Regions from separate parts of the Homo sapiens genome. Here all the other regions are linked to region 1. Evidence: fine-mapped expression QTL. A gene starts in region 1. Each other region holds a variant in brackets. All regions are shown on one strand. Distances are between the middles of the regions.

Region 1 (10,776 bases):
ACTATCACTATTTGACAGATAATGAAATGGAGAATTAGAGAGATTGGTGGACTTAATCACAATCCAGGCAATTAGCACCCAGTCCTCTGGTGCGAAGCCCTGTGTTCTTTCTGCTTCCTTCACCAGAGCTCCCAACTCCACTACCTCGCTTTAAAATAACCATGTGTTTGAACTAATTTCCACTTAAGTCTAAAGTAACTCCAGCATGTCTGACAGCTCCCAGGTACCATATTTACGTTTGCATGGATATCTTCATCCTAGAATACAGTCAGCAAGAGGACAAAAATAAATATATCAAGTAATAGAATCGGAATGTAAATGGGCACACACACAAGTCTTGGGATCTAATTTTAGAAAGAAACAGCCAAAAAGTCCCACACAGCACAGTGAGCATCTGGCCCCGTGGGAGGCTGCCCACACTGTTTAAACCTCAATTAGCCCAGGGAGAAAGGGATCCTGGAATCCTAACTGGCATCTTGCTTTCAGAGGCAACAGTTGGGTGAAGAGCAGAATGACTTTTCATCATGTTCTCCCACAAAAATGGTAATGCACAGAGTTAAAAAAAGGTAAACCTCGAAATAAGTAGGTATTACTGAATGGCTGAAACCCTGAAAGGATTCATCACACTCTGTGACTATGGAGTTATATTCTCACAGCAATGATTCTCACATGGGAGCCAAGGGAAGTGGATGGTAGGCAAGCAGGGCCCACTGACCCCAGCCTAGGAGCTGATTTGGTATGGGGGTCATATAAGGCTTCAAGGCCTAATGAGGTCATCACAGGCTCATTCACCTAACTACCATAGGTGGCTATAACCTCCTTCACAATTAAGTAGACTTTAAAATATATATACATACATACACACACACACACACACACACACACACACACACACACTCTTGTTAATATTTATATATATATATATAATATATACTCTTATTGTTAATTATATATTTATGTATATATCACTCTTGTTGCCCAGGCTGGAGTGCAATGGCAAGATCTCAGCTCACTGCAACCTCCGCCTCCCGGGTTCAAGCAATTTTCCTGCCTCAGCCTCCCAAGTAGCTGGGACTATAGGCACATGCCACCCAAACCCAGCTAATTTTTAAATATTTTGCAAAGACAAGGTTGCCCAGGCTGGTCGTGAACTCCTACGTTCAAACAATCCTCCTGCCTTGGCTTCCCAAAGTGCTGGGGTTACAGGGGTTACAAGCATCAGCCACTGTGCCTAGCCTTAAGTAGACTTTTAATTATTCTTCCTGGGTGCCAGTGATCACGAGAATGTAACTTCCATTATGGCAAGAGATCTTGTCTCTTTTGTTCACTGAAATATGCCAACCCTGCAAAATGGTGCCTGGCACTTACTGTGTGCTTCAATAAATAGTTGTTGAGTAAATGAATGAATGATCTGGTGTTGGAATTAATCCTCCTGGACCCATGTGGAACAGTGTAAAGTGCCAGAGGCCAAGAATTGGCTTCCATCAGCTCAGTCATTTGCTTCCGCGTTTTCTCTTTAAATACATACACCACTGCAGTTCAAGCTCCCTGAGATCCAGGGTTGGGTCTGGTATATCTTCTTTCACCAAATTCCTACTTTATATCACCTCTCCTAACTGTGCCTCCAATGCTCCACTATCCTCGCCTCCCAACCTCCCTGCCCCAGGCCCCATAACACTTCTACATAGCTTCTAATGTGTAAGTACATCACACACTATGTACTTGACCCCACCTCATCCTGCGCAATAACAATTGCAGGCCTATTCTGCCAGGCACTGTGACAGATAATAGGGTACGATGATAAGACACAACCTCTGCCTTCCAGATGCTCATATCTTATGAGAGAACCAGATATGTAAACAATTAGAATACAATGTAATAAGTATCACAATGGAGGTGCCATGGCCGCAGTTACAAACTGACAATCCTTGGACCAAATCCAGCCCATATGATGATTTAATATCCAGTCCATATGGTGATTAGGTTTTCTTAATCAGGTGCTAACCTCTAAAAATGTGTTGCTTTCACATAAAATTTTAGACTGCCAGCATCTCTTGAAGAATCATATCTGGCAATACTGGGCCTGTATTCTCGACAGCACCAACCAGCTTTGGCTAAGTAGTGGTTGTCCCTTTAGAGGGGGCATGTGGCCTCCAGTTCCCAGTCCCCCTGCCCTAACTCACTCCCCTAGTTTCTTCCAGGCAGTGATGCCAAGGGGTCAGCTGCTAGTTTTTCTAGGCCAGCACAGATGTTATCTTAAAGTAATGATTCTCCATACCCACACTTCTAAAAGGAGAAAATGAAAGATAAATGGACAAGGCCATGTGGAGAGCTTAAGAAAGTGGTGGAGAATGCATTTCCTACGAAAATGAAGAATATTCCTACCTATGTGATATGTAAGTGAAGTGTGTCCATGTCAGGTACCCGGTTCATTTGCTCATGCACCTGCCTGACCCATTAGGCTTCTCAGCATGGGTCTCTTCATCTGTTGCAAACCTACTATGGGCCAGCAAGCTAGAAGCCAGGTTTCCTGCTGTCTGGGAACTCACTGTCCGGTGGGGGAGACAGACATGTAAAAAGACAATTCACATATAATGGCATATGTTCACAATAGGTACTATGGGAAGTGAAAGGAAGGACTGCTAAGTCAGCCTGGAGAGGTTAGAGAAGAGCTAACTTCTGGCAGAGGATGACCCTGAGGCTGACTTTTGCAAAGTTTTTTCAAATGGACAGAGGAAGGTAAAAAGGGGCTCTGAGTAAGCTGCCAAAAGTAGTGCCCTGGCAGTAAAAAGTATTGCTCATCAGAATTACCCACCCTCCACAAAGAAGCTGGATCATTTCCCATAATTCCAGGCTACTCGGAAAAGTTTCCAGGAAAGTAAGGCCAGTAAATGATCTGCTTCCTGCCGGAAGACTGTAGAAAGCGCAGGTCACCACCGAGAGCAATGTCCAATTGTGTAATCCAACCTTACGTCACCAGTCTGCCTCACTGGCATTTATTCAGCGGAAATAAAAACCTGGAATCCTACTGGATTTTGAAACTTCCCAGTCCCTTGCTTCAGCTAACATAAAAAGTTCTACATTAAGAATATAAGGAAATGCACAGAAACTAGTCTGGCATCAAGGAAAAAAAGTTCTTCCATTTCCTGCTACAAGGACAAATGCCAAGGAAGGGAATTCCCAAATCAAGACAGGAGAAAGGGTTGGCATTCAAGAGAAGAAATATGGAATACCAAATCCTTGGTCATTAAGGAATCACTAACTCTTAAACAGTATTTCTTCAGATTTTCTTTTTTTTTAGCACCCACCTCTCCAGTCAGAGTCAAAGAGGAATTCTTGCCATTGAGGTGATTCTCGGCCTGCGCTGACTCCTGTTGAGCTCGGCGACCCATCTTGGCCCTCTGTAAGGAGAAACAGAAGGCACTGCTGACCCAAATGTCATTTGGGCCACTACTGAGATGACAATCCAGCCGGGCGCAGTGGCTCACAGCTGCAATCCCAGCACTTTGGGAGGACGAGGCAGGCAGATCACAAGGTCAGGAGATCCAGACCATCCTGGCTAACACGGTGAAACCCCGTCTCTACTAAAAACACAAAAGATTAGCCTGGCGTTGTGGCGGGCGCCTGTAGTCCCAGCTATTTGGGAGGCTGAGGCGGGAGAATCGCTTGAACCTGGGAGGCGGAGGTTGCAGTGAGCCGAAATTGTGCCACTGCACTCCAGCCTGGGTGACAGAGCAAGACTCCATCTCAAAACAAAACAAAAAAAAAGATGACAAGCCTGGGAAGGTAAGCAAGGACTGGATTTATGATGATGTGGTGGAGAACGGGATTTGAGTTACTTGGACATGTTTTTAGAAAACCCTCTAAAACCCCTTAAAACAAAGCACCTGAGGTCAGTTCTATTTGATAGGAAAATAGGAAATTAAGACAGGTTCTCACTCTGTTGCCCAGGCTGGAGTGCTCACCGCAGCCTCCACCCCCTAGGCTCAAGTGATCCTCCTACCTTGCCCTCCTGAGTAGCTGGGACCACAGGTACACACCACCATATCTGGATACTTTATTTTATTTTTTTGTAGATATGGGGTCCCCCTGTGCTGCCCAGGCTGGACAAGGTTTTCTTTCAACAGCTATAGAGATGGCAAAAGAAAATTCTATTTTCTACCCAAAGAAATGCAGTTACAAATTCCTCTAGAATGGGCAGATACCTCATGCCACAGGTCAGAGAAGAAGGTGGTAAATGCTCCCATGTTCCTACGCAGGATTTTAGGAAGGCTTAATTTCAAATCTGCAGCTTGGCATGAAAATCATTATCAAACAGGCTTTTGGAAAGAATTCCTAAATTCCATGGTAAATGGAAAACAGCATTTGCTCTGATATGTACAGTAACTGGGTTTGCCTTTACAGACATTAAGGGAAATCTAGTACAAGAATTTTGAGACATTATCTTTGGAAATCAGAGCACTTCAAAATTCTTGGCCATCAAATGAATCATTTGCAGGTGTTTCCCAAGGCCCTCCGGTGGAGACTCTGCCTCTAAGGCTTCCCAGCACATAAACAAAACTTTATTTAGTCAGACTCTTGGGTGCTGAAATATTTATACTTTTGCTTACTTTGTTTAAAAAAAACAGCATTAATATAAGCACTTTTAGATCTCATTTAATGTGGCTTCCTTTGATTCTCACAATAATGGACAGAAACTGAGACTGCTGTCATTTTACAAAGGAGGAAACTGAGGCCTAGGAAGGTGATGAAGTGGCTGACATAAACCTAGGAGCAAAGCCTTCTGATTTCAGATCCTGGGTTTCCTGGGTGCTTTCCACTCTACCCTGCTGAAACTTGTTTTAAGATGTTCTAAGGACTGACTGCCCCACTAAACTGAGAGGGGTTACAGAAGAGCTCGTAAAAACTCTTATGCAATGTCGACACTTCAAATTGTAGTGTCATTTAGGTTTCAGGGATGGTGGAAACAATCTTTCTGATAATAAGCAGCTTATTTTCTTCTCAAGTCAGACAATTCCATCCCTTCACCATGGTTGCCCTTTTCCATTTGTCACAGCACTGAGTATCTGAATACAGCATCCTACATATGGCGGTTGTGCTAAAACAAAAATTCAATGATCTTGTCGCTAAATGCTGTTCACAGGTGTTTTCTCTAATAATTTTTAAGTATTTCAAGGTTTTAAACTTTTTGAAGACCCTGTATAGATCCATAGGGTAGAAAAACTTCTTTACTGCCTGATTTTTGTGTATGTTAAATGTAGTCTATTTATTGCCCATCTTCTCCCACTACAACATAATCACATGAGGGCAGGAACTTTGCTTTATTCATTGCTGTATCTCCAGCACCTAGGACACTGCCTGATACACAGTAGGGGCTCAATAAATATTTGTTGAATGAATGAATAACTACATTCACATCCCCAGGTACTAAAAAACATTCACGTATCAGCAGGCCTGGTGACCTTCAAAACACTTAGAGATTTCACAGCAGACACTAAAGACTTGCTCTGGGGCCCAATCTTTTAGTAAGTGCGATCCTAACCAGTTTTAAAGATAAAAAGGCCTGATGGGGGTTACAAAGGAGGAAGGTAGACACTGAACTTGGGTCTTGAATCTAGCTCCATTATTTACTAACTATAACGCTGGGTAAACCACAGCCTCATAGGCAGCAGTAGCTAACCTCTTCTGACCTCTTCCGTGATAACATATGCCAAGCACTGAGTTACACGCTTCCCATGTATTGTTGCATTTCCTTTTCACTGTAACACCTCCATTCTAGGCATAAGGAAACCAAGGCTCGGAAAGGTTAAATCGTTTTTTAGGTTTTTTTTTTTTTTTTGAACCCAGGCAACAGCTCTATGCTCCATCTGGCCTCAGTGCCTGAGCACCTAATCACTCCCTCACGTTACAAATCGGTCTTGGTTTCCTTAACTACTGAGGTAACTGAGGTTAACTCCCACCTCCCCACGGGGATTACCGGGAAGAAAGGCCGTCCCTGCCTGCCTCCCTTCCATGCATAAAACAGTGCGGCTTTTGCAGGAACTTCTGCGACGAGGTGTCCCAAAGGAAAAACTCTAGGATGGGAGCGAGTGCGACCCCGGCCGGGGCTCCCCTATCACCCTGTGATCGATCTGTTCTGGGGAAGTTCGCACTCGGGGCTCTAGAAAACGGAGAAAGGCTCGGAAATTTCCCACGGTCCTAGACGCCGGCGGGGACAGGGTGTTTTCTACTTTCTGAGGATTTTAAAGAAAGCAAACCCCAGGCCAGCAGCGGCGGAGCCCACAGTGGCCTGGGGGCGGGGCGGTGAGGCTGCCTCCTTCTGGGCCTCACCCGGCGCGGCGCGAGGCCTGCCGCCCTGAGTCGCCTCAGAGAAGTCGGGGCCGGCGGGGTCGCTCCTCCCCACCCGCCAAATCCTGGCCCCCAAGGCCCCCGAATTGGTCCTCACGGAGGTAGCCAAGCTGTAGCGAAGCTCCTCGTCCAAGTCGAGCAAATCCTCCATCTCCGCGGCCGCCTGACGTCACTTCCTGGAAACCGACTGGCCCAGACGCGTCCCTGCTAACAGCCCCGCCCCTCCACCCCAATTTTTAAAGGGTACGCAGCATGGTTCCTGGATTCTGTGTGCCATCCTCCAAACTACCGAATCTTTCTTAAATCTGCCTTGCTTGACATCTGGAAGCAACCTCCGGTTATTAAAACTCGCCAACGCTGCTCCTGCGAGACGGTAAAATAATTTGGTCGTTAGGAACTGTCTGTATTTGTAGCTCTGTTTAAATATATCAATATATTAAGTGCAAAGCACTACTACTGCTATACTGATGCCTCCCACTTGTACAGCTCTTTGCAAGGTACAGAAGGCCGTCACAGTTATTGGCTTAACGTGAGGGGCATTAACAACCTTGTGTGGGAAGCAAGATAAGTGGTATTGTTTCCATTTGACAGATGAGAAAACAGGGAATCAGGTGTAATAAATGGTTTACCATGAATTATGGAAACTGCAATATACATAATCTCTGCCTTCAAGAAGTTTACAGAGAGGCTGAATCAACACATCAAATAGCTGAGTAGTAATAACTTTCAAAAGTACAAATATTCAATATCTCATTAAATCCCAATAATCCCGCAAAGTGAGTAGCAGTAGTATCTCTAACACAACAATAAAGCACACTGAGGTACAAAGAAGGGGCTTGAGGAAAATCACCTAAGTGCCAAGCAGCAGAGCCAAATGCCCTTCTGACACCAGACATTACTGGAGTATTTATCTCCAGCACATACTACTGGGTGCCAGCCATTCTCCTAGGCTGGCAGAGGGAGATGTACCACAAATTCCCAGCCTAATGGGGCATTTAAGTTGCGTCTTTGTTGACTCTTCATATGAGATCTCCAAGTCAATATCACTGGCCAGGTCCCTGACACTGGTTGGCTGAGATCCATAGGAGATGGGCTGATAGCCCTGAAAGCAAACAACATTCCAGTATTATGTTGAGGGGAAGGCCTGGATGGACACAGGTTAAAAGCAAGGATTCGGAAGTGGGAGTAGCACCCCTGAAACCTCATTGCAAGCATTTCTTAAATATCCAGTAAATCACTCAGTTCAGTCACACATGTTACTGGATAGGACTGTGTGTTAGCATGCCTGTGACAGCAAGAGCACTGGCCTGGATATCAGAAGAGCTGTGTTCTCATCTTAGCTCTCCTGAAAACTACCTGTGTAGTCAGAGCAGAGCCCTTTCCGCTATCAGTTTCCTCCCTTGTAATTACTTTAGAGATTATCTCTAAGATCCTTTGTTAACTTGCTTCTCAGTGAGAATACTTTGTTAGATTTTAATCTGAAGAAACACTCATTGCCAAAAATCCAAGACAGATGAAATATAGGCTCCAATGAATCCCTTGTTCCCTTCTTCTTCGGCACCAGATGAGGAAGAAGGGATTAATCTTTGGATTTTTCCATTTCTTGTAAGCTCACAGCATACGACCATCACCTTATAGTCAGTTTCCAGACCTTCACCCCCACTTCTTCCCCAACTTGCTGAAAACAGAAGGCAAATGGTCCTCACTCTGGGCAGAGAGGTACCCTGCAGTAGTAGCTTCCAGAACTTGCTTAGCACCTGAATCACGTGTGAGGTTTGTAAAGAAACAGAGATGCCAGGGCCTCAGCTCTGGAGACTGATTTGGTAGAGGTGGAGTCCAAAAAAGTATAACTTTAATAATTTTCCTTCCTATCTTGCAACTGTCTGCTCAAAGGCCTTCCCTTATCACCCTATTTGAAACTGCAACATCCCCCAACCTAGGCACACCCCATCCTCCTTCCCTGCTTGATTTTCTGCCACACCACATTTGTTTGTTTGCTTGTCTGTTTGAGACACGGTCTTGCTCTGTCGTCCAGGCTGGAGTGCAGTGGTGCAATCTTGGCCCCCTGTAAACTCTGCCTCCCTGGCTCAAGTGATTATCCTGCCTCAGCCTCCCAAGTAGATGCCTGCGCCAACATGCCGGGCTAATTTTTCCATTTTTTTGTAGAGACTGGGTTTCGCCGTGTTGCTGGGGCTGGTCTCGAATTCCTGAGCTCAAGTAATCCTCCTGCATGGGCCTCCCCAAATGCTGGGATTACAGGCGTGAGCCACTGCACCTGGCTCAGCACTTTTTACCGTACTACATCATTTACATATTTATTTAGTTTATCGCCTCCTCCACTGCCCCACCCCTGCCTCTAAAATAAAATTTCCCTGAGGGCAGGAGTTTTGTTTCGTTCACTGATATTCTTCACAGAGCCTAGAATAGTGCCTGGTATATAGTAAACATTAAACTTTTTCTGAAATTTCAGAGGCAGTATAGCATAGTAATTAAGTCCAGAATCTGGCAACGTCCTGGGTCCAAATCCCAACAGCTGACACCTAATAACTATGTGACCTTGGGCAAGTTACTTTTAAAGTTTCTACCCCTAGGTTTCCCATTGGTTTTGCAAATGAAAGTAATGCCTACCCAAGCTAGATAGCCTGTGTAAAATATCGCCTCCATCACTCACAAGCAGTGTGGTCTGTAAAAAAAAAAACAAAAAACTCTATGCCTCAGTTTCCTCATCCGTAAAGTGACCCACCGCTGTGCTGGGATACAGAGAACAGCCCCTTCAGTTAGTGGCCTGGAAGCCAGACCTCTCAGAAAGGGTCCAGGAAGGCTGGAGTGAGATGGGGTGGGAGCGGCACTCACTCTCAGGAAAGTTCAGTTCAGAGGCAAGCCCTGTGTTGCGGGGTGCGGGGAGCCACGTGCCCTACCCTCCCTTGGCTGCTCGTGGGAAAAGGCCTAGAGGTTCGGGCCGAGAAGAGGAGCGAAAGCACAGAGCCGACTTCCCCTCACCCATCTGGGAAATGGGCTCGGGCCAACTGCTGACTTCGCGCTCGCTGGCGCAGCTCCCTGCGGAGACCTCGGCGGGGAGGGAGGCTGAACATCTGGATGACATTTCTGCGAGAGCGGCTCCGGAGCGGCGGTCGGGGAGGGAGAGGTGCGCTCGTGCGCACGTCGGGCCGGGAGGGAGGCGATTCCTCGGGGCCTGGGTCTTGTTTTTCTCGCTCTCTACCGCAGCCCCTTCTCCCGCCCCTCAGCCCCCACCCCGCAGCCCCCAGCCCCCGAGCCTCCCCGGCTCCCGACCAGCCGAGCTCCTTCACTGGCGGCCTCGCCTCGCCAGAGGGCACCCTCGATCTTCCGGAAAACGCCACCATTTTTCACTGCCCCTGGAGCGTCTCCAGGCTTCTGCCCGCCTCCCGACTCCGATCTTGTCAATGAAGAATCGGGCCAGGATCGCCGCGGAGCGGACGCCGACCCTCCGACCCGGCTCGCAGGCTGGGAGTCCCCTCTGCGAGGCTGGCATGGCCGCCCCTACCGGGTCCCGCGCCCTCTGCGGACCCTGCCCCGGGTTGGGCCTGGCCCGCGGGCGGCCCCGGGACCGGGGGACCAGGAGGGAGAGTAGACGCGGGCCGCGGACGGCGCGGACTGACAGCTGGCGAGAGGGCGCCGGGGCTGGGGGAAAGGGAGGGAGGGGGCTCATCGGAGTAACTTTCCAGAAAAACAGCCAACGTGTGGCAGGAGTGATTCCAAGAGGGGAAAAAAAGTTCAGCTACCACGTCGAACGAGAGGACTCGCAAAGTATTTTTCAAAAGGGCTCGGCTTTTCCTGTGCCTGTTTAAAACATTAACATCGTGCAGCAAAAGAGGCTGCGTGCGCTGGTCCCTCCCTCCCCCACCCCAGGCCAGAGACGTCATGGGAGGGAGGTATAAAATTTCAGCAGAGAGAAATAGAGAAAGCAGTGTGTGTGCATGTGTGTGTGTGTGAGAGAGAGAGGGAGAGGAGCGAGAGGGAGAGGGAGAGGGAGAGAGAGAAAGGGAGGGAAGCAGAGAGTCAAGTCCAAGGGAATGAGCGAGAGAGGCAGAGACAGGGGAAGAGGCGTGCGAGAGAAGGAATAACAGCTTTCCGGAGCAGGCGTGCCGTGAACTGGCTTCTATTTTATTTTATTTTTTTCTCCTTTTTATTTTTTAAAGAGAAGCAGGGGACAGAAGCAATGGCCGAGGCAGAAGACAAGCCGAGGTGCTGGTGACCCTGGGCGTCTGAGTGGATGATTGGGGCTGCTGCGCTCAGAGGCCTGCCTCCCTGCCTTCCAATGCATATAACCCCACACCCCAGCCAATGAAGACGAGAGGCAGCGTGAACAAAGTCATTTAGAAAGCCCCCGAGGAAGTGTAAACAAAAGAGAAAGCATGAATGGAGTGCCTGAGAGACAAGTGTGTCCTG
Region 2 (10,776 bases), 48 kb before region 1:
TTGAGGCTGGGAGGTCAAGGCTGCAGTGACCCATGATCACGCCACCTCACTCCAGCCTGGGTGACAGAGTGAGACCCTTTTGTAAAAAAGAAAAGAAGCTCTTCTACTCTGTACTGAGATTCAGAAAGATCAGCAAGAAATATTGTTAGAGATTTTTTTAAAAGTGCAGAATGCATATGTTCCCATTTGTGTCTGTAGGTGGGTGAGGAGAATATATTAACCTGCATAGAGTACCTTTGGAGAGAAACACGAAAAAAACTGGTTAAAAGTGGTTGCCTCCAGGAGAGGAAACTGGGTGCCTGAGAAAGTCAGGAAGGGAGAGAGAGACTCAGGTTTCATATCCCACTCTTTCATATCTTTTGAATTCTATACTATGTTTCTTTTTTATTTAAAAATAAATAAATAAAATTCACCAGTAGTTCTAATGTCTCAAAAGAAGACACGATGTTATACAAAGACTAAAATCTAAAAATGTATACTGTCTCCACATCCCACTCCCTTTCTCTCTTCCAGCCCTCTTGAAATGATCCACCTTTCTCAACTTAGTTACATTTGAGCTTTAAGGTCAAAGACACTTCACTCCACAAAAAGGCAGGCCAGGCACAATGATTCACACCTGTAATCCCAGCACTTTTGGGAGACCAAGGCAGGAGGATTGCGTGAGATCAGGAATTCAAAACCAGCCTCAGTGACATAGCAAGACTTCATCTCTACAAAAAATTTAAAAACGTGGCGAGTATGGTGGCACACGCCTGTAGTCTCAACTACGCAGGAGTACCTGTAGTCCCAGCTACTGAGGAGGCTGAGGCCGGAGGACAGCTTGAGCTCAGGAGTTTGAGATTACAGTGAACTATGATCACATCCCCACCCTCCAACCTGGGCAACAGAATGAGACCCTGTCTAAAAAAAGAAAAAAAAAAAAATGCAACATACCATTACAAAAAGGGGTTGTGTCTAACATTAGACCTGCGTGCCTGTGCTGGACAAGGGTCCACAGAATGAACAAATGCTTACTTTTACATCTGTGCCCATGAACAGTGACTTTCAGGAAGTACCCACCTCACTGTACACATTTCAGGGGCTAAGTAGGAAAGGACACCAGGCCCAAATGCGACCACCAGTTAGAGCGAGGTCTAACTATCAGTTTAACAGGGAACAGGCTCCACAGATGAGCTGTTCCACCATGACCCATCCATTATTCTCATTCCTCCCCACCCGCCAGCTACCAGAACAAATGAAATCTACCAAAATAATACAAATGTGTGAAGATAGGAAAGGACTAAAGATAGCATGAGTGTGACACATCTCACACTTTTCCCTACTTCAATGGGGATAATTATTTTTCCCTAGTTATTTCGATGTACACAGTCTGGGGGGCTATTCATCTTCAAATCTTGCTGAACATCTATGATTTCCTATAATAAACAATGCAACTGAATCCCAATTTTTCAAAATAACTGTGGATTCTCTAAGTTCATGAAAATAAAAACTTATCTAGCTCTTCCTCTATCATCTTTCTGTCCAGGCTCTGAGAGCAAAGCAAAAAATTACACTTTGGGGAGCCTACCTAGAATAAACAAATCTAAGATGTACATTAAAAAGATATGATGTCACATGGTCCTAAAGCCATCCTTTCTAAACTGACCATATCTTGGAAGGCACGTGAAAGAAAAGCATCTATGCAGGGCAAAATGCATGACGGTGAAATTGAGACAGAGATCCAAGCAGAGAGTTCACACGAGCATCTCCAAAAACCACAGAAATAGAGACATAGCCTCTAAACTCTAGGCACAGCCACTGGAAATGCGAGCACAATTAGCTTCCTAAGACCTTCCCTTCTCAACCATCTCACATGCAACAGCCCCATCTGATTTTACCCAATATTGGACACTCATTTCTGGTACCTGACTGACAGTTAAGAACCCACGTTGCCCAGGACTCCGGTCATGCCATACTGATTCCGGGTTCTTTGCGGCTAAGGGTAGCAAGGGAAAAATCAATTCTCAATACTTCTAATTTTGTTTTGTGTTTCTTGAAAACCAAATGAGCAAAATTGTGTTTACCAATGAAAATCTGAAGGTCAAGGATTAAGTCCTTTTACTTTACTGGAAATCAGAGCTGCCTCGTCCTACCAGGGACACCCTTTTCAATTATTAGAGCTCTGTAAGAAATGCCCCAAATTTACTCATTGATCAAATATGTATGGAGCACCTATGTGTTCCAAGCCCTACAGACCCAGATGCAAACAAAATAGACAAATATCTCTTGCATAGTAACCACTCGCTTGTTACTATTAATAGTAATGCAAAGGCAAAGGCAGCTGCAGCTCTTAATCAGTTCAATAAAATTAAAAAAAAAAAAACAGAGAATGAGGGAAAAGCCACATTTAGGCAAATATTAACAACTGGTTGTTCAAGGTAAAAGTGTGCATGGGTGTTTGCTGTACTAATACTGCAACTTTTCTATAGGTTTGAAATTTTTTAAAATAAAAATACTAAGAGAAAAAGGTAGGGTTACAAGTATAAAATGTATTTCAAGCAGCCAAGTAGCTGGTAAGAGTTCATTACAGAAGAATTTCTGTTAATAAATGGAAATTAGACAGTCATCACTTGACAACCTTTAATGAAATCATGGCTCTAGCAACTATGAGCAATGGATGCTACAACCATGAGAGGGGAGTCTGATGGGCGCTATAAAGTGGAGACTCACACAGCCCTGCCCCCACTGGTCAATCACAGGCTGAAAGTGGAATGACCGGACACCTGTGCCTTCTCATACCTGTGCCTTCAAGGCAATACAGTGGGATGTACACGGCATCACCTACAAAGTATTCCTGCCAAAACTGGGCCTAAATGGAACTCCCAGTTAGAGCTACACCTAACTATCAGTTTAACAGGGAATATGAGGGACAGAGAAACAAGTTAAACACCATGACTAGGAAGCAACAGACCACATCCAGAATGTGGGAAATTCTACAGGACAAGTTTCTTTAAAAAAGGAAATCATCATGGCCACCTGGGCAACACAGCAAGACCTTGTCTCTCCAAAAAATTTTTAAACATTTAGCCAGGCATGGTGGCGTGCACCTGTCCTAGCTAATCGGGAGGCTGGGGCAGGAGTATCACTTGAGCCTAGGAGTTCAAGGTTGCAGTGAGCTATGATCGTGCCACTGCACTCTAGCCTGAGCAACAGAGCAAGATCCTGTTTCTAAAAAAGAAGGAGGGAGGGAGGGACAGAGGGAGGGAAGGAAGGAAGGGAGGGAGGAAGAGAAGATCAATGGCATTGGGAAAACATAGGGGGGTGGTGATTGTTGCAGAATAAAATAGAGACTATAGAAATATAACAACTAGGCCAGGCATGGTGGCTCACGCCTGTAATCCCAGCACTTTGGGAGGCCGAGACAGGAGGATCACCTGAGGTCAGGAGTTCAAGACCAGCTTGGCCAGCATGGCAAAACCTTGTCTCTACTAAAAATACAAAAATAAGCCAGGTGTGGTGGCGCGCGCCTGTAGTTTCAGCTACTTGGGAGGCTGAGGTGGGAGAATTGCTTGAACCTGGGTGGCGGAGACTCAGTGAGCCGAGATCACACCACTGCATTATAGGCTGGGCAAGAGAGTGAGACTCCACCAAAAAAAAAAAAAAAAAGAAAGACAGAAAGAACGAAAGAACAAAAGAACAAACGAACGAACAAACAAACAAAAAAAAGGAAGGAAGGAAAGAAGGAAGGAAGGAAGGAAGGAAATGGCTAAATACAATATATGGACCTTGATTTGTTCTGTTTACAATCCACCTATAAAACACATTTTTGAGACAATGGAAGTAACTCAATATGACCTGGATATCAGATGACATTAAGGAATTATTAATTTTGATATGCATCCTAATGTCATGATGGTTAACAAACAAAAACAGTCCTTATCAATTAATAAAAATTATCTCCAGCAGCAGCAGGAAAGGTATGAGGAAGGGAATCAATTGCATTATTTATTATTTATATATCGTCAAGCTTTTCTACTCATCCTTGGCCTCATATAGGATAAAGCGTGTTCACATCCATAGGTATATCTTCTTGAGACTAAATAACTGTGTGCCCTTATATATGTCTGACATAGTACTTCCCTGTCTTTTTCAAGACATGAAGCAATTAAAAATAACACACAAATGGGTGGACAGATGAGACTTCTCATGGCCACAGGTGACCAGCCTAGGGGCCTTGGCTAGGTCTACCCCACAGGCAGGGTGTGCCCACATCATGGCACACTGGCACCCACAGTGCAGCACATGGCACACCAGCTGGGCAGCTCCAGCTAACCTTCCCTCTGTGACACCTTTCTGGGAAATTGACTTCTATGGGGATGGACAGCCTATAACAGAGCCGGTTTAAAAGGACAGAACGTATGTTTGCAACTGTGCTTACAGATCTAGGAGCCCTCTGGCTCCATGAGTTTTTGCTTTTCACACTTTTTAGCCTAATAGGAATCAACTACTTGCTGCTAAAGGGAAGCAAAAAGATTCTGGTATGGCAATGACATAAAGGGAGAGGACAGAAGCCCTTTAGTATCCTTGGAACATCAATGCCATTAAAAAAGAGAGAGAGAGAAAGAGAGAAGGAGGAGGGAAGGGGGATAACCTCGGGACCAGCACACAGCAGTTCTACCGCCATCTTAATGTCCTTGATGCGTGCAGATGGTGTGGAAGTGGCTGGCACCAGAACAGCCCATGAGAAGGAATGAGCAGCCAATGGAGATTTATGTGAGGAGAGTGAGATGGACAAGGTAAAATTGTCAGGAGGAGTTGTTAGAAAGTAAAATATATTGTGACAATTCCACTCCTGCCGTTCATCAATAAACTGACAGATCATTTAGTGTCAATTAGGAGTGATAGATGGACAAGTCCCCATGATCCTGGGCCAAAATTAATGGCTGGGAGGGAGAGGGTGATTGAAAATGACGGCTGACATTGAGAGCAAAGTCCTGAAAGTCCCTGAGGGGCCATTACTTGCCTCATTCCCTTGCAGATCAATGCAGGGACAAACCCAAAAACAGACACTTTGAGACAAAACTTAATCAAACTACCTTTCCTTCCTCTCTTTACCAAGTTGGCTTTCTCTCTTCAGCTCTATTCCCCATGGCGAAGTCAGTGACCCACCATAAGTGTCCTACCTCGGGCAACTTCAGAGCCAAGGACAGCTCCAAGATGGAATCTCTGGCATAGCTATGACTCTGACGCCAAGGGGAAGGGACTGGTAGTGATCCCAGGCCCCAGGCAATTCCTGAACTTGGCCCTTTCTGTGGCTCAAGGATGAGCAATGGAGCCCTGGCACCCAACATATCTAGCCAGTGAGGTGGCTGACACATGTTCTGTTCTCTATCCTGGGCAGTGTTATGCAAATAAAGCCAAGGTATCCCAGAAACTCATATTCCTTAGCTATGAGCTCCTCAATCAGATTCATAAACAGCCCTTCTACTTCTCACTGGTGACACTTTCCTCCTACCTTCTTTGCACAGGGATACCTAGCTTATTGAACAGAATCTACCCAACAGAGTTGGTGTAATGCACATATAAGGTGCTGCTACGGACTGAATATTTGTGTCTCCCCAAAATTCTTATGTTGAAATCCTAATCCCCAATGGGATGGTGGTTGGAGGTGGGACTTTCAGAGCTGATTAGGTTTAGATGAGATTATGAGGGTGGAGCCCTCATGATGGGGACAAGGAAGAGACATAAAATCTCACTCCTTACATGCACATACCAAGAAAAGACACTTAAGGACGTAACTAGGAAAATGGTCCTCACCAAGAACCCAACCACAATGGCACCCTGATCTCAGATTTCCAGCCTCCAGAATCATGAGAAATAAAGGTTTGTTGTTTAAACCTCCCCATATACGGTAACTTGTTATAGCAGCCAAATTAAGACAAGTATCTAGCACAATGCCATTGTTATTATCACCCAAAAAGAATTTAAGGTGAATACGCTATTTTCCGGGGTCAATTCTCTGCTGTAACTAGACTGACAATAAAGTTACTATCACTCTCACAACACCAGATCTTAAACCAAAATGCCTTCTTCATGATCCTGTTCTGACCATCA[A/G]AATTCATCCAGCTTGACTCCTATCTCCGCTATAAGACACTCCCTGACCATAATGATTACTCTCTCTTCTGATATCCCATCACCAGTGTTACTCATTCATTTGTTCCTCACTTACTATGTGCACCTTCTGCCAATATGCTCCTTTTGCCATTCCTGATTTTTGTGGATGAAAATGTCTCCTAAATTAGAATTTGAGCTCTTGCGGGACAGGAAGTATATCTTCCACTCTGGTACTCACTAGAGTATCCAGCAAATGGTAGGAGCTCATGTTTCCAACCTTAATGAGGTAGGTCCTCAAAGCTCGAAAGTTGCCTCTCTTACCCCTCATCAGCCTCTTTTTCTGTTTTAAATCTGCTCTACTTGACTTCAAGATGCCACTCTCCTTTGCCTCAACAATCTCAACAGTCAGTCTGTCTTCCCACTTTGAAGAATGGAAAAAAAAAGAAGCCAAACCAAAAGGAAATTCTCTAAAGTCCCCATTCCCCTCAACCCTCCTCAATAACTTACCCAGCCTTTCCAAGCTCCGTCTGTTTTGGAGGAAAACTATCCGCCCTACTTCCTCCTGTCCAAGGTCAATCAATCTCTCCTGGAAGGTCTTATTCTATCCCTCCAGTATCCTGCTACATCAGTTAACCCCCTACTTCATTTCTAATTACTCTTTCCTCGAATATTGCAGACATGATTCTTAATCTAGACTCTTCTTCCAAATACTGTTCCATCCCTTTCCTTTTTTCATAGTATCCTATATTACTGGCCACTTCCTCATGTCCCACTTCCTCTTCAGTCTACTGCAATCTGGCTGGGGCTCCAATGCAAATGACTGTAACCACTTTCTCAAAGGCCCCTTGTAACCTCCAAATAGCCAAATCCAATGATCTGTCCTTGTCTTCTCCTACTTTTGTAGATGACTCAAAGTGCATCTCTTTTTTGACCTCACTTTTAGACTCTTGAGCTATGGAAATTACCCACATGTCCCACCATCAGCTCCTAAATCAGGTCCCTCCTGCCTTCCCTCTCTTATAGCACCATGACCCAACCAGACACCTAAGTGGGGCTCCTTGCAGTGACCTTCAACTCCTCCCTCTGCCGCACATCCAACCACTGGTATTTCTATTAACTCTACCTCCAAAATGTCTCCACATCATCTTTCCTTTCCATCCTCACAACATGGCCCTGGTTTAGGCTCTTATCCCAACAGGTCTTCCAGCCTTTCAGCTCTCCACCTTCCACACCGAAAGTAAAGTGACCGTTTAAAAATACTGATCTGATCATTCATATGTTCAATAAATAGTCACCGAGTGCTTATTATGGACTAGGCACTGTGCAGGAGACTGGGGGTATGTAAATAAGAGAGTGTGTCTCCTCTCATAGAGCTTACATTGCAGCAGATAGAAAAAGAGAATATGTATGCATGCATGTGGATATGTCAGGTGGCAGTAAATAAAGCAGGCAATGGGGACCACAGAGCGATGAGGGGTGCTACTTTATGTAAAGTGAGGTAAGGTAGGACCTTGTAAGCCATGGTAAGGACTTTGGGTTTTACTTTGACTGGTTGGCATGCTACTGCAGGGTTCTGAGTATACAAGTAAAAGGTTTGCACTGATGTTTTAAAAGAGTCACTCTGGTTATGCAGAGATAACACAGAGGGAGCCTCGTCAGGAAGTTCTCACTTGAGCCAGTGCAAGAAATGATGGTGGCTGCAGCCAGGTGCTGGCAGTTCAGACAACAGATGTATTTCAACAGTAGACCTAACAGGGTTTGCTGGCAGACTGAATAGGGTGATATAAAGAGAGGAGGCCAGGATAATTCCAAAGTTTACAATCTGAGCAATTAGGAAGATAAGAGTCACCACTTACCGAGATCTAGGGATGACTTTGGAGGCACGATTAGGGGAGGGGGTAGAAGGGGTTGAAATTAGAAGACTAATTTGGATGTGTCAGGTTTGTGTTGCATATTCCAGTTGAAAACATCAAGCAGGCAAATGGCTGTCCAGGAGGAGAACTGGGCTGGAAATATAAACATAAATTCTGGAGTCATCACTGCGTAGACGATAGTCAAACCTGAGACTGGGTTGAGATCATGCAGAAAGTGAGTGTTGACAGAGAAGAGAGAAGGTTAGAGGAAGAGCCCTGGGCACTCCAACATTTCGAGGGGTCAGAACCAGGCCACAGACTGAAAAGCCAAGCAAGTGAATACCTCAGAAAGTAACAGGTGACAAGGAAAAGCTTCTTTCTCCAAGAGGAAATGGATTTGATCTGGAAAAATCTTTAATATTTTCACTGAGGAATGAATACTTGTGATAATCTTTTGTTCTCTAAGAAGCAGACAGGATTTGTCTTATTTTCTTATTTCAAAATAAATTCCAGATATGACAAGTACTAAAATCCCCTAATAATTTAGGAAAACAAAGCTCCTCCATAAGATTCACATTAGTAGATGAGACCTGCATTTCTGCGTCACCTTCTTGTTTTCGCTTAACACTAAAAATGATTGTTATGGTCTATAAGTAAAACAGCATGCTACATAATAGCCTAGGAATAGAGACACCACTGGCACAGAATAACGCATCCAAAAGCAGACTCGGGTAAGTACAAAGATTTAGAATACGATAAAGGTGGCTTCTCAAATCACTAGAGAAAGATGGATTTTTAAATAAGTGGTGCTGGGACAATAGCCATTTAGAAAAAAGTAAAACCATACACCAAAATAAATTCCACGTGGATCAGCAATCTCAATTTTTAAAATGAAAGGGTGTGGCTGTATTCCAATAAAACTTTATAAAAATAGGCAGCTGGCCTGTGGGCCATAGTTCACTGACACCTAGGATATAGAAACAAAGGAGGAGAAATATAAAAACTTATATATACATATATAATTTATATATGTATATTATATAAATTATATAATTTTTATGTATGTATATATAATTATATATATATACACATATGTTTACTTTTCCAAAAAGAAGTATAGGAAAGATAAACCAGAAACTAATAAAGAAACTGCCTATATGGGATGGACGGGAATGAGGTGGAGAGGATGATAAGGATGGGAGTGAGACATCACTGAATACATCTTTCTATACAATTTTAACTATTGATTGGTGTAAATGTTCTACATATTCAAAAGTAAATTGAATAAAAAGGATTTTTAAAAACCTTAAAATTGAACACAGACAGAAACAAGTGAATGTAATTGTGTATTAAATTGATATCTTAACCTGTATGAGAAATAATTCAAATAACTTCCGAAAACAGTATCCTGAACCTTAGTGTGATATATTCTAAGGACAAAAAGAACCACAAAGAAATCTTGAGTTTTACTTAGGAAGTTTGTTTTTGATAATGACATTAGTATAGTAACTGTAAAACTACTTTATGTGTGTTACAGGATAGAGCGTATTTTTTAAAATGTGTTTCCTAGTTCTACCTACTAAAAGAGCCTAGAAGCAAAGATATCCAATAGCAATGGGCAGTGTGTATATAGACCGTGAATTCTATAACTATTCTCCACCAAAAGGACCCAGGAGTCCTTGGAGAAGTAGCTGACTCCTGGACTAAACATGGAAAATACAAATTTATTCTGGAATATCTTGCTGCGTTGAAAAGCAAGCACGTACTCTAATACTAATAAAGCACAAAAGCATAAGAGCCATCTCAAAGTTCTCCCTGGCCAAACATGGGACAATCTGAGCACTAATAATCATTAGTATTATAGAAAAAAAAACTGTGATGATGGAAATGAATTATAACACAATGAACAATACAAATCCATGAGTCCAGCTGGGTGCAATAGTTCATGGCTATAATCTCAGCACTTGGGGAGGCCAAAGTAGGACGATTGCCAGGAGTTTGAGACCAGCCTCAGCAACACAGTGAGACCACAGCTCTACAAAAATAAGAATTTAAAAAAATTAGCCAGGCATTGTGGTGCATGCCTGCAGTCCTAGCTACTGGGGAGGCTGAAGCAGGAGAATCACTTGAGCCCAGGAGTCTGGGTTACAGTGAACTATGATTGCACCACTGCACTCCAGCCTGGGCAACAGAGAAAGATCCTGTCTCAAATAAAATAAAATAAAATAAAATAAAATAAAATAAAATAAAATAAAAATAAAAATAAAAAAAGTACAAAAATAGGCACAGAGGCCAATGGAACAGAACAGAATATCTAGAACTAGAACAGCATACCTTCAACCAACCAATCTGTGGCAAAGTCAACAAAAATAAGCAACAGGGAAAGGACATCCTATTCAATAAATGGTGCTGGGAAAACTAGCTAACCATATGTAAAAGAATGAAACTGGACCCCTTCCTATCACTATATAAGAAAAATTAACTCAAGATGGATCAACGACTTAAATGTAAGATCTCGAACTATAAAAATCCTAGAAGAAAGCCTAGGAAATATCCTTCTGGATGTCAGCTTTGGCAAAGAATTTATAACCAAGTCCTCAAAAGCAACTGTGACAAAAGGAAAAATTGACAAGTGGGATCTAATTAAATTAACAAGCTTCTGCACAGCAAGAGAAACTATCAACAGGGTAAACAAATAACCTAAGAATGGGAGAAAATTTTTGCAAACTATGCATCTGACAAAGGACTAATATCCAAAATCTATAAGGAAGTTAAACAAATCAACAAGAAAAAAATAACCCCATTAAAAAGTGGGCAAAGGCCATGAACA
Region 3 (10,776 bases), 98 kb before region 1:
AGCACGTGGGCTGATCACCTGCTACTCATTAAAAGCTGTTGCTTCTCAGCTCCAGTCAATAGCTGCTCTAAGAACAGCAGCTCCAGAGTAGCCAGATCCTCCCATTTTCTTTCTTTTTCTTTTTCTTTCTTTTTTTATTTTTTATTTTTATTTTTTTGAGACGGAGTCTCACCCTGTTGCCCAGGCTGGAGTGCAGTGGTGCGATCTTAACTCATTGCAACCTCCACCACCCAGGTTCTAGCAATTCTTCTGCCTCAGACTCCCGAGTAGCTGGGACTACAGGCGCGTGCCACCACGCCCAGCTAATTTTTGTATTTTTAGTAGAAATGGGGTTTCACCGTGTTAGCCAGGATGGTCTCGATCTCCTGGCCTCGTGATCTGCCCACCTCACCCTCCCGAAGTGCTGGGATTACAGGCATGAGCCACCATGCACGGCCGATCCTCCCATTTTCTAAGAGAAGCTGGAAGCTGCAATTAATTTTCTGGATAGAAATAAGCAGCTGAACTTTGGGAGCAAGCAGTTATTTTCCAAGAGAAGCTGGAAGTCTAAACCTTTCAGTTTTAAATGTTGATAATTAACAAAACAATTAAAAACAGTGCATGAGCCAAACCCAACATGTCCTGTGAGTCAGCATCAGCCTATGGCCTCCAGTTTGTGACCTTGGGGTAGATGCCCACTCAGGTCCGGTCAGGTCCTAATGCCCTGTGATTTATGATCAGGCACAACAAGTGACCACTGCCTGCCCATTCAATGTGATCAGAACTAATCTTCATTGAGGGCTTACTTTGTGCCAGACACTTAACAAGCATCAGCTCAACAAGCATCAGCTCATTTAATCATCACAATAGCCCTGTGATTCAGGAATGATTTTCAGCGTCACTCCACAGATGAGAAAACTGAGGCTCAAGGAGTTATGAGAACATACCCAAGGTCGTACAGCTGCGACGTGGAAGAGCACAGATGTGAACCTGGCATCATCCCATTCTCAGCCACCACGCCTGCCTGCCTTGCTTCCTCTGGGCTGACCATCAACTCACAAGGGACACTTCAGCACCACGCAGCCCACATAGCATCCAGGGAAATTCTGGGACTGACACTTAAGAGGAAGTCCCCAAATTCTTGTTCATTCTCCATTCAGGGCTGTGGCTCTCTCACCCCTCCTGTGCTGTCCTTTGGGGACACACCTGCAGTCTGCTGGCGGACGTGTGGCTGCTGGGTGGAATCTACCGCCGCTAAAGGTCTGGAAGAGATAGCGTTCTGCAGGATTCTTTCTGGTCTTCTCCCAGCCCCTCCTTGGCCAGGTGTTTTCTTGTGGGGAGCACAGGAAGGGGATGCTCTCCCTCCTCCCCGAGGCAGCGCTGGTGGCTGCAGCTGCAGCAGCTGTTCCTGGGTGGGCTGGCCAGCCAGCGTTCGGTGGGAGCCAAGAGCCCCTGCAGCCTGGGAATTCTGGGCTAATGCTCAGTCCTGGCATGGTCTCCTCTCTCACTGACCCCTCCAGTCCAGGTCACCACGACAGATGCTAGGAACATATGCCGTGAATTAATTCACTCCGGCACAGCCACAGAAGAACGGCTTCTTCCTCGTTCTGCTCCCACCACCCTTGCTTTCTGATTTCTGCCTTGCCAAAAGAAAAATCAACATTTTCCCCTTCCCTTGCTTCTAACACCCACTCCACTGGGCCTTCTCTTCAATATCCTGAGCCCGCTGACAAAGGCATTTGGCTCCTAGAGACTTCCTCACCCCCACATCCCAAGTAGGATCAAAGGGCCAAGAAGGAGCCAGATGTCCCCCTTTCCAGCTTTTTTGTCTCCAGATAGATCATGTCCCTGTTCCTGGAACTGATGAGTGCTCGTTTCCTTTTCTTAAAGAAAGGTTGTCTCTCCTTTAGGGGCCAGAATCTCCCCACCCTTCTAGTCTTTCCTTACATTTAACTCAAATCACTCCTGCTGCAATGAATTTCCTGGATAGAAACAAGCAGCTGAACTTTGAGAGCACGCAGGTTTGTTATTTCTCATCTTCATTCTCTCCTCTAAGGAGGGGTTGGCAACATTTTTCTGCAAAGCGGCAGATAGCTAATATTTTAGGCGTTGTAGGCCAGACGATCTCTGTCACAACTAAGTTCTGCCCCTTGTAGCATAAAGGCAGCCATCGACAAATGAGCTGTTGTAAACAAATGAGCACGTAAACAAATGAGCATGGCTGTGTTCCTGTAAAACTTTACAAGAACCAAGTGGCCTTCGCTCAAAGCAAATCAGCCCCACCTCTGTTATTTCTTGGTGGGCGAAGTATCCCTCTCTCTCTCCTCCCATCTGTATTTTGCAGATCATATGGGCTCCTTCACTCACACACTATTTATTTGCTAGCTTGTGAGTTTCTAGAGGTCAGGAGTGTGCTTTATTTGACTTTGAACTCCTGGAATAGGCATGCAGTTGGATAGAAATGCGATCAACACCTAGTCTTGGACTGGAAGAGCTTACAGGCTAGTGGGGAATACAGACAGATGAGGCCTATGTTCTCAAAGCAGAGATAAACTCAATGATAGGAAGAAGGCAGGGAGGGAGGAATCAGAAGAATATGCCTCCCACAAACTCAACAGCAGCCTTTGAAAAAATTAAGGACAGGAAACAAGAAAAAAGTACTTACTTAACCCTGATATCCTAAAGAACTGAGGCCCTGAAAAACAGTTTGGCAGTTTCTTAAAAGTTAAACGTAAACATACCATATGATCCAGCAATTTAATTCCTAGGAATCTACCTAGGTGGAATGAAAACATCTGTGCAGCCGGGCACAGTGCTCACACCTGTAATCCCAGCACTTTGTGGGGCCGAGGCAGGCGAATCACTTGAGCTCAGGAGTTCGAGACCAGCCTGGCCAACATGGTGAAACCCTGTCTCTACTGAAAATACAAAAATTAGCCGGGCATGGTGGCACACGCCTGTAATCCCAGCTACTCAGGACTGTCCAGAATCAGCAAACTGATGGGGCCGGAGAGCAGTTGCCCAAGGCTGGGGATGAAAGCAGGAATTAACTGTAAATGGACACAAGGGAATTCTGTAGGATGAGGAAAATGTTCTAGAACAGGATTATGGTGATGGCTGCAGAAACTCATATATTTCCTAAAAATCACTGAATTGTACAACTTCAATTGTGTACTCTTAATTTTACGGCACACAACTTTTATCTAAATAAAGCTGTTACAAATAACAAAACAAAACAAAACCTGGTGCCAAGCCATCTTTCCATCCATGGCTGAGAAGTGATTCATGAGGGGAGATGAAGGTGATACCCCCTAGCAAACTGCAGGCACTGTTGCCATAAACTGTCACTTTTCCTACGTTAACTTTTCAATCTTATCCAGTTCTCAAATCCAATAACAGCAGCTGGCTTTTACTGGGCGCCACAATCCCAAGAAGACAATATTAATATCATCCCATTTTCCAGATTAGAAAACAGGATCAGAAAGGGAAAGCAGCTTGCTCCAGGGCCCAGAGCTACAAGGCAGAGCTGGGACTGGAGCCCCATTCTGCCTGATTCTAGAACCTGTGCTCTTTGCCACTGTTATTTACTCCTATTCCCTCTACCTACCCTTTTCCCCATTGACTCTTTGACCTGAAGGAGAAAAGCATGGTGCTGCTTGGTCAAGCAAGGCAGAGTCTACGCTTCCACATCTCTCTGCAGTAAACAGCACTTTGCATGCAGGTCTCTGGCAGCAATGAGCCCAGAAGCGCCCTTACCTACTAAGCAGGAAGGCCTTGATTTGTGCCAGTAACACATTTTGATCAAGCAACACTGAACAGGTGGTGGCATGTTTCCAGTGAGAGCATGTAGTTATAAATGCCCATCTGGAGTGTCGTGGGGTTTAGCAAAGATGAACCACCAGTCAAGGATAGAGATGACCTAAGCTTCAGCTGCCGGCCTGCCTGGATGAATTTCTGGCTTGAGCTCTTCACTGGGAGCCGAGTTCCCAGGGAGCACTCCGTGCAGGGGCCTTATAGTGCCTCTCTGACTGTCTGGTGCAGTGGGCACACCCTCCTTCCTGGTGGGGAGCTGGCAGCAGCCTCCCAGCCTCTGGTCTCTGACAGACAGAGCTCATTGTTCTCTCCTGCAATGTAGCATCAATAGTTCTGCCTCTTCCAGGCCAAGGCATGAAGAGGCCATGCAGTAGTTTGAGGGAAGTTTTCCATAGTGTGCCTGTCAAGCCCAAGGAAGCCTGAGAATGCTGTCATCACAGGAGGGAGAGGACCCCAGACACCCAGAGGCCTTTCCTGTGACAAGCCGGGCCTTGGGCACAGCGAGCCAGAGAACCTTCTCTTTCGTTGTCACCCCCACCCCGGGCACCTTGACTTCCAGCCACTCCTCCAACAGGTCAGGCACATGCCTTCCTCCTGGTTTTTGCAAATACTGTTCCTGCTACTGAGAGCACTGTTCCCTGGGCACCAGTCTCACTCCTTCCTTCACCTTGTCAGTTGTGTGCCCAAATGCTCCCTTCTCAGGGAGGCCTCCCGATTGCCCTATTAAAAAATCACGACCCCCCTCCCCAGCACTCCCTTCCCTGTGCCGGCTTCATTTTTCTCTATAGTATCTCTTACCACTTGAGACACTATCTATTTTACTTTATTTGTCCATCTCCCCTTCCAGAATGTAAGCTCTATAAGGGAAGGGAGTTTTGCCTGTCTAGTTCTGTATCTGGAGTGTCTAGACCAGAGCCTGGCCTGAGGGAAGTGGCAATCAATTATTCCACAAAGTAATGAACTTCCCCATCACAGCCCGGCCTATGAACGGCATCTCTGCCGTGACCACCTAATGCCAAAGACACCAGGGGAGATTTTGTCAGAGACCAGCTGGGCTACCCAAGCCTGCTCAGAAGTGACTTGAGCCCGTCTAAGAGAAACTGGTAAGGAACTGGTTAACAAGCCATGTATTACTAGAAATGGCAGCACCAAGATTCTTCACTTCATGCTCCCCCACACCTGCACAAAACCATATTGCTGCTACCTGTGGATGCTTATTGATTCTGTCACTGCCCTCTTGGGCCATGTTCCTGAAAGGCTCTCTGAAGTCAAGTATATGACACCGTTGGATGTAACCTAAGGAAGGTATTTTCCATGTCAGATGAGAACTGGGCGGTCATAGATTCTGCAACATCCCATTCCTCTGGCACCCTGAAGCCATGATGAGCAAATGCTGGGTAAAGGAAGAAGCCCAGACAGGACATGATCAGGGCACAGGACAAGTGAAAGGAGACTCAGTCACATGTGGCCTGGACCTGATTTGGCTGAGCTCAGTTTGCTCAACGTAGAGCTGCTCCTACCCAGTCCCACTGCCCTGGGGCCAGGACTCTTGAGCTCACCTATGTTGCCAGGCTTCACACCAGGGGACTGACAGAAGCCCTCTGCTCTGTGGTCACTCCACAGACAAGAGTGGGGACGGGGAGGGGTGGTGGCAGTGGACTTCTTTCTCCCAGTGAACTTGTAAATTCTGTCTGCTATAAACTAGATTACTTTCCCAAGATGAAGGCAGCAGTGGGTAACAGAAACACAGGTGGTAAAGCGCTGTGGCATCAGAACTTGGAATTCCAGCTCTGCCACTCAGCTGGATAATCTTGGGCGATCTCTTAACCTCTCTGAGTCTGTTTCCTCATCTGTAAAATGGGATAACCACAGCATCTGCTTTACTGGGAGGCTGTGAGGATGAAATCTGATCATTCCTGTGTGCTGAACCCAGCACCTGGCATGCAGTGAGAGCTCCATGTTAGATCTTGTTGCTGCTGTTGTAAAATAAAGGGAGAAAGGAAGTCAGCCCCTAGCCACTTGCTCAGGCTGGCTGGAGACCTCCAAGGTTATCAGAGTCCTGAGGCAGTTGGATTTCCAGTAATTAAGGGAGTAGAAATACAGCCTTTCTCCTTTGGGTTTCAGACTGATGTAGACTCAAGCAAAACTAGCCTGGATGGAAACTTTTCAGTGGCCATGGGAATTATTCCAAAGAGGGGCTGCCTGGGCTAAAAGTGTGACTCTGGAAAAGGAGGAAATGGAACCCTAAAGCCACTAAATCCCCGAGTTTATAATTAACAGACAAGCATTCGCTCTGCCTGTTCTGGAGCCATGTGGCTCGCCGGGGAAGGGCACCGTAGTCACACAAAAATAACCCCCCAGTGGGTTTTTGATGTGTTGAGCCTCTTTGTTTTTCTGAATTTTAATGAAGGGCTTTCCAGGCAGGATAACAGAAGCACTCAGCGCTCCCTATGGCCGGGGAGTGGGCCTTAGTTAGCTGCTGCCAGCCTAACCCAAAGCCGCATCCAAGAGAAGCAGGCAGCGAAGGGGCTCTGTCCTCAGATAAGAAGTCTCAGGGAGGAAAAGAGAAAAACAAAAACAAAAGACAGCTCTGTTTAGGAGAAGGGTGGGACTCTGCTCCTGATCTCAGCACATCTTGGAACCAGGCGGTTATAATACTTGCAGCGGTGGAGATGGCTGCAACGTATCTAAAAGGATAAGGAGAAGGGAGGCCCAGGCTCTGTAAGAGAGGGCTTCCATGGAATTCTCAGGGCTGCTGGCTGGCCCCTTCCCATGAGAATCAGAAATGAGGCTCTGGGAACCTGTAGAAGCTTTTGGAGCTCAAGGCATGGA[C/T]TGCAGGAAGAGGGGAGAAAGGAGAATATTGTCACAACAGCCACCAAACCCTGATGCGAGTGAAGAATGAGTCTCCTTATCCCTCCCGCCGCCTCCTCCCTCCGCTGCAGCTGCCTGGAAGCCTATGATGCAGGTGGCAGTGCTGCGTCACTAAGGTCACAAAGGGCCCAGAGCACCCACGGGAAGGGAGGCCCCGCCCCAGAACCCCAGCAGGCAACTGTTTGAAACCTCCCGAGAAGTGAACAGCTTTCAGTAGGAGTGCCCACTCCTTCTCCGCCTGAATCGAACTCTCCCACATGCTCCGCAACAAGGCCGCGAGTTCTGAGTTCCTATCAGCTGGTTTAAAAGCTGTTCTCCTTCACTTGTGATACATTTTCCAAGAAGAGACTGGAAAGAAATGGAGGAGATGGCACAGAATAAGCAATTTATTGCAATTGAATTATCCAATGTGGTTGACTGAATATAAATATTTTTATTACAAAATATTCCAGGTAAAAATTCGGAGCTGCTTACAAGCTTCTTTAGCTTTAAGCTCATTGCATTTCTTCATGTCTAGAGCATGGGTGACGGGCTCAGGTGTGCCTGGCCTGCCCCGCAGGGTCCTCCTTCTCCGTCTGCAGTGGGTCCCACTCAGTGAGGACCTCTGAGGACACCTCAGTGAACAGATGGTCCCAGTCCCAGCCGACATCATCCTGCCAAGAAGGGTTTCGCTGGGTAAGACAAAGAAAGGCCTTTTCCCTCAACTGTAGCTGACTTCTCCCTCCCATCCAGGCCTCAGGGAGGCACAGGCCAGCCCGGGAGTCGGCTGGTTATGGGAATGCCAGAGCTGAGAGACCGGGGAATTGCTGCCACCACTGTACCTCCCGGACTTCGTGCTCCGGCGCGAGCACTTTGGTGAGGAGTTTCAGGTCGATCTCCCCATCCTGTGAATGCAAACAAAAAAAGGTCAGGCTGAGCACCTTGAGGGCTTTCAGGCAACTCTTTCTCACAAAACCGGGATCAGTTTTTGTGTGTCAGAACTTCCCAAACTGAGACCTGCAGGAATGCCTTCACAAGAGAGTAAAATCATGAATGAACCACATGCCCACTGAGAAATGAGGGAAGGCTATGCTTCCCACATGCTGGGCGTGCTTTGGGGCAAAGGACCATACCAGGAGGACCGAGTGTGACAGCAGTACAGCCACAGGGACAGAGGGGAGTGGGGTGCCATCAGGTGCCAAGTGGGCAGCCATGGAGGCAGGTGGGAGCCTGGCACTGAGAAACACTGTACTATGTTGGGTCCAGGGTTGCTGTGAGATGAATGATGATAAAACCTGCAGCAGAGGTATGGGTGCCAGGCAGGCAGCCTCAGGGGACTGGTGGAGGCGCTGTATAGCTTGGGAGGAACTGAGAAATCTCTACGGATTGAAGCCCATTGCTTGGAGCCCGCCTCTCTATGCAGAAGCTGTTCCACTCACCAGTGTCTGAATGGCTGAGTACTTCATGAGGTCATTGTCCAGGTCACGGTAGGTCATCACCCGCTTTATCTGGATGCTGAAGGAAAGAGAGAGCGAGAGGCGGGAACCCCAGGCAGGACCTGTTCCAGGAGTGCTGCCGGGCCACCGTCCCCAGAACCTTGTATACAGCAGGGGATGACCAGAATGGGAATAACAAAATGGGAACCCTGGATGGAGCCCAACACCAGAAAGATCCAGATTGACATCAAGGTCCACTATAGATGATATCTGGAGTGTATTAATTCACGTGTTCTTTGCCTCCCCAATCATATCTGATTTAACCTACCTGGGAGGGGCTGCCACCTGCAAAACAAAGTCTTCTTCCTGTACTTCCTCCAGATCCGGAATGATAGGAATATCTGCAAGGAGAGGCAGAGGCAACACTGTCTGCAGAACTCATAGGGATTGTGCCTGCTTCTCCACTTCTTACTCATTCCCCTTCAACACACCAGCCATGGGGCTGTGGGCTGGGGCAGGAAGGACACTCAGATACAAACTAGGGGTAGGATCAAAGGTGGAGTTTCAACGATGTCTGAATCCCAGGCCTCATTCCAGAACCTGCTGAGATAGAACCTCCTGGGTCACGCTCAAGCATCCAGATTTTTTTCCCAGGCGTTCCTTGGTGATTCTGACGCGTGCAACAGGTTAGAAGCCACTGCAGTGGATCTCCAAGGAGAAATGTAAAGAAATAAATGTAACAAAGGGCTTATTAGAGGAAAGAAGAGGAACTGACAAGTGAGCCTGGCATGGTCAGAGACAGAGGAACTGAGAACATGTAGTGTCACAAAGCGGATGCCGCAGTGAGTGCCACTCCTCATGACCCAGATCTCTATGTGCATTAGCCCCGCAGTGCAATCATCAGGGCCCTCAGCCTGCATCTCAAGGGCATCTTCCATCTAATGACATAGCCTGACTCCCTGGGATCCAGGCGTCCATTTGCCAGGTCTAATGTAATCAGGGATGCTGATTCTACAATCATGCTTTTCTTGCTGTCTCAAGATTTTCCATCTCTGAACTCTCCAGACAACATACGAGGAGACACGAGGCCATTTCTTCCACCAGTCCAACAAAATCATGCAAACAGAGAACTGGGAAACCAGTCCATCCCTTAATTGTGGCAACTTGCTTAAGTGACCAAAAATTGTCCATGTTCTCATGGGTCAACCTAACATCCTAAAGAAACATTTCCTTCTCCAAGTGAGTATCACTGACTGGTTGAGACATTTTGTTTTAAACGGTCAGGGGTGGGGGAGAAGGGAGGGATGGTGCAAGAAAAAAGGCCTGGTGGGGTGAGACAGTCCTGGAATTCCCAAAGCAACTGTAAACACGGAAAGAAGGAGAAATCCCAAAGGTAGACTGGTGAAGACATCTTTCATTTCTGCTTTCATGGACTGAATTCAATCTTAGTTTTCAAAGAGGTGCAAATCATTTCAACAACAGCTGAGAAGGCCCTTGCCACTTTCAGGCAATTCGTGATTTCGACTTTTGATCACTCTAGTCAAGTGACGCCAGAGGATGGAAATGTCAGTTCCAAGCCTGGTGTCTTTATTATGACTTCCGACTGTGGAGGCACAGATGTTGTACCTGGAAAAAGAGAGCATGCAAAGGAGAGACAGACACAGAGAAAATTCAACAGAAAGAGACAGGCAGAGAAAACAAGGGATAAAAAGAGTGAAAAGGGATAAAAATAGAAAGAAATTGCTGCTAGGGAAAATAAAGCAGAGACACATCCACCACCCCCCAAATAATGAACCACATTTAGCAAGTCTTATAGCTAGAAAGAAGCTGTTCAGAGCTTAGATTATATCTCTCTATCCTGCTAGAGAATTGGAGATGGAATGCTCTAAGATTCTATTTCTTATGCTAATAGAAATTTAGCTTTCTTTTTCCCTCTCGTTCTACGTGATTAATACAGTCCATTGTGCAGGCTGCTGAGAATGCCGTTCCCCAGGCTGGTAAGACTGCACAGGCCCTATGGAGGGACAGAGAGGAAGCTGGCTGTGCCACGCACCATCGGCAGTGTGACAGTTTTGGAGTGTGCCTGGCTCTCCTCGGGTGCAGAATCCAGCCTGAGATGAATATTCAGAAGTTGGTAAGAAAATGCACTGTGCTGAGTTTAGGGCTCAGGACAGGGTCTTCCCAAACTCCCCTTTCCCTCCACAACTTTAGCATTTGGGTCCTGTCAACTCTGCCCAGCGTCTTGGGGCTCTGAGGAATTGCACTTCTGCCCGATGTCCACTCTCACTCCCCACAGGCTTCCCTCTTCGTCCCCAACCCCCTCCTCCAAATGTGCACAAAGAGTGTGGGGCTGGCCCATCTGTGACAGATCAGAGGTCAGCTCGGGCCTTGGCAAAGGGGCTGCTCAGAGCGGCGCTGGTGGGGCTGGCCACACAGTGGGATTTCTCTCTAATTGGAAGCCTGGTGCCCAGCAGAACCCGGTGAACCGCCTGAGTGGGACAGAGCCAGCGATGACAGCCAGGCCAAGGCAAGCTGGAACATTCTTGTGCAGTGACAGCTTGAGCCATCGCAGCAGAGGCAGGCCATCCAACTCCGGCCCCCAGCAGAACAGGTGTCTGCAGAGCAGGTTTTGGGCAAACTTCAAAGAACTTCACAATTTTACAGTTTCTGATTTACAATCACAGGCAAGTGCTCATGA

Which allele goes with the higher level. Positions count from the first base shown, and alleles are read on the strand shown. Sizes are in standard deviations (SD) of each study's normalised expression. Not every link is listed here.
With allele G in place of A in region 2, the expression in testis of the gene that starts at base 6,523 in region 1 is higher (small effect, 0.16 SD a copy in GTEx).

What was found. PIP is the estimated chance that this variant, and not a neighbour inherited with it, causes the effect.
Region 2: its variant is fine-mapped to the expression of IFT43 in testis (GTEx, PIP 0.98).
Region 3: its variant is fine-mapped to the expression of IFT43 in nasal epithelium (TOPMed, PIP 0.99).

The regions. Positions count from the first base shown.
Region 1 is chr14:75,981,510-75,992,285 of GRCh38, reverse strand. IFT43 (intraflagellar transport 43) reads right to left here and starts at 6,523. Exons shown (of 9, transcript NM_001102564.3): 1 at 6,446-6,523; 2 at 3,309-3,401. The coding sequence starts at 6,499. TGFB3 (transforming growth factor beta 3) reads left to right here and starts at 10,291. Exons shown (of 7, transcript NM_003239.5): 1 at 10,291-10,776. RefSeq lists silencers at 6,233-6,542, 9,497-9,616, 9,747-9,986 and enhancers at 6,369-6,870, 9,657-9,716.
Region 2 is chr14:76,029,278-76,040,053 of GRCh38, reverse strand. All of the region lies in intron 3 of IFT43 (intraflagellar transport 43), which reads right to left. Among named protein-coding and RNA genes, the nearest start is that of IFT43, 49 kb to the right of the region's middle. The variant A/G (reference allele first, on the strand shown) is at 6,094.
Region 3 is chr14:76,079,998-76,090,773 of GRCh38, reverse strand. It overlaps IFT43 (intraflagellar transport 43), which reads right to left. Exons shown (of 9, transcript NM_001102564.3): 6 at 8,407-8,479; 7 at 8,082-8,157; 8 at 7,485-7,547; 9 at 7,032-7,316. The coding sequence ends at 7,197. LOC105370573 (a long non-coding RNA gene) reads left to right here and starts at 10,121. Exons shown (of 2, transcript XR_007064270.1): 1 at 10,121-10,212; 2 at 10,553-10,776. RefSeq lists an enhancer at 5,904-6,890. The variant C/T (reference allele first, on the strand shown) is at 6,625.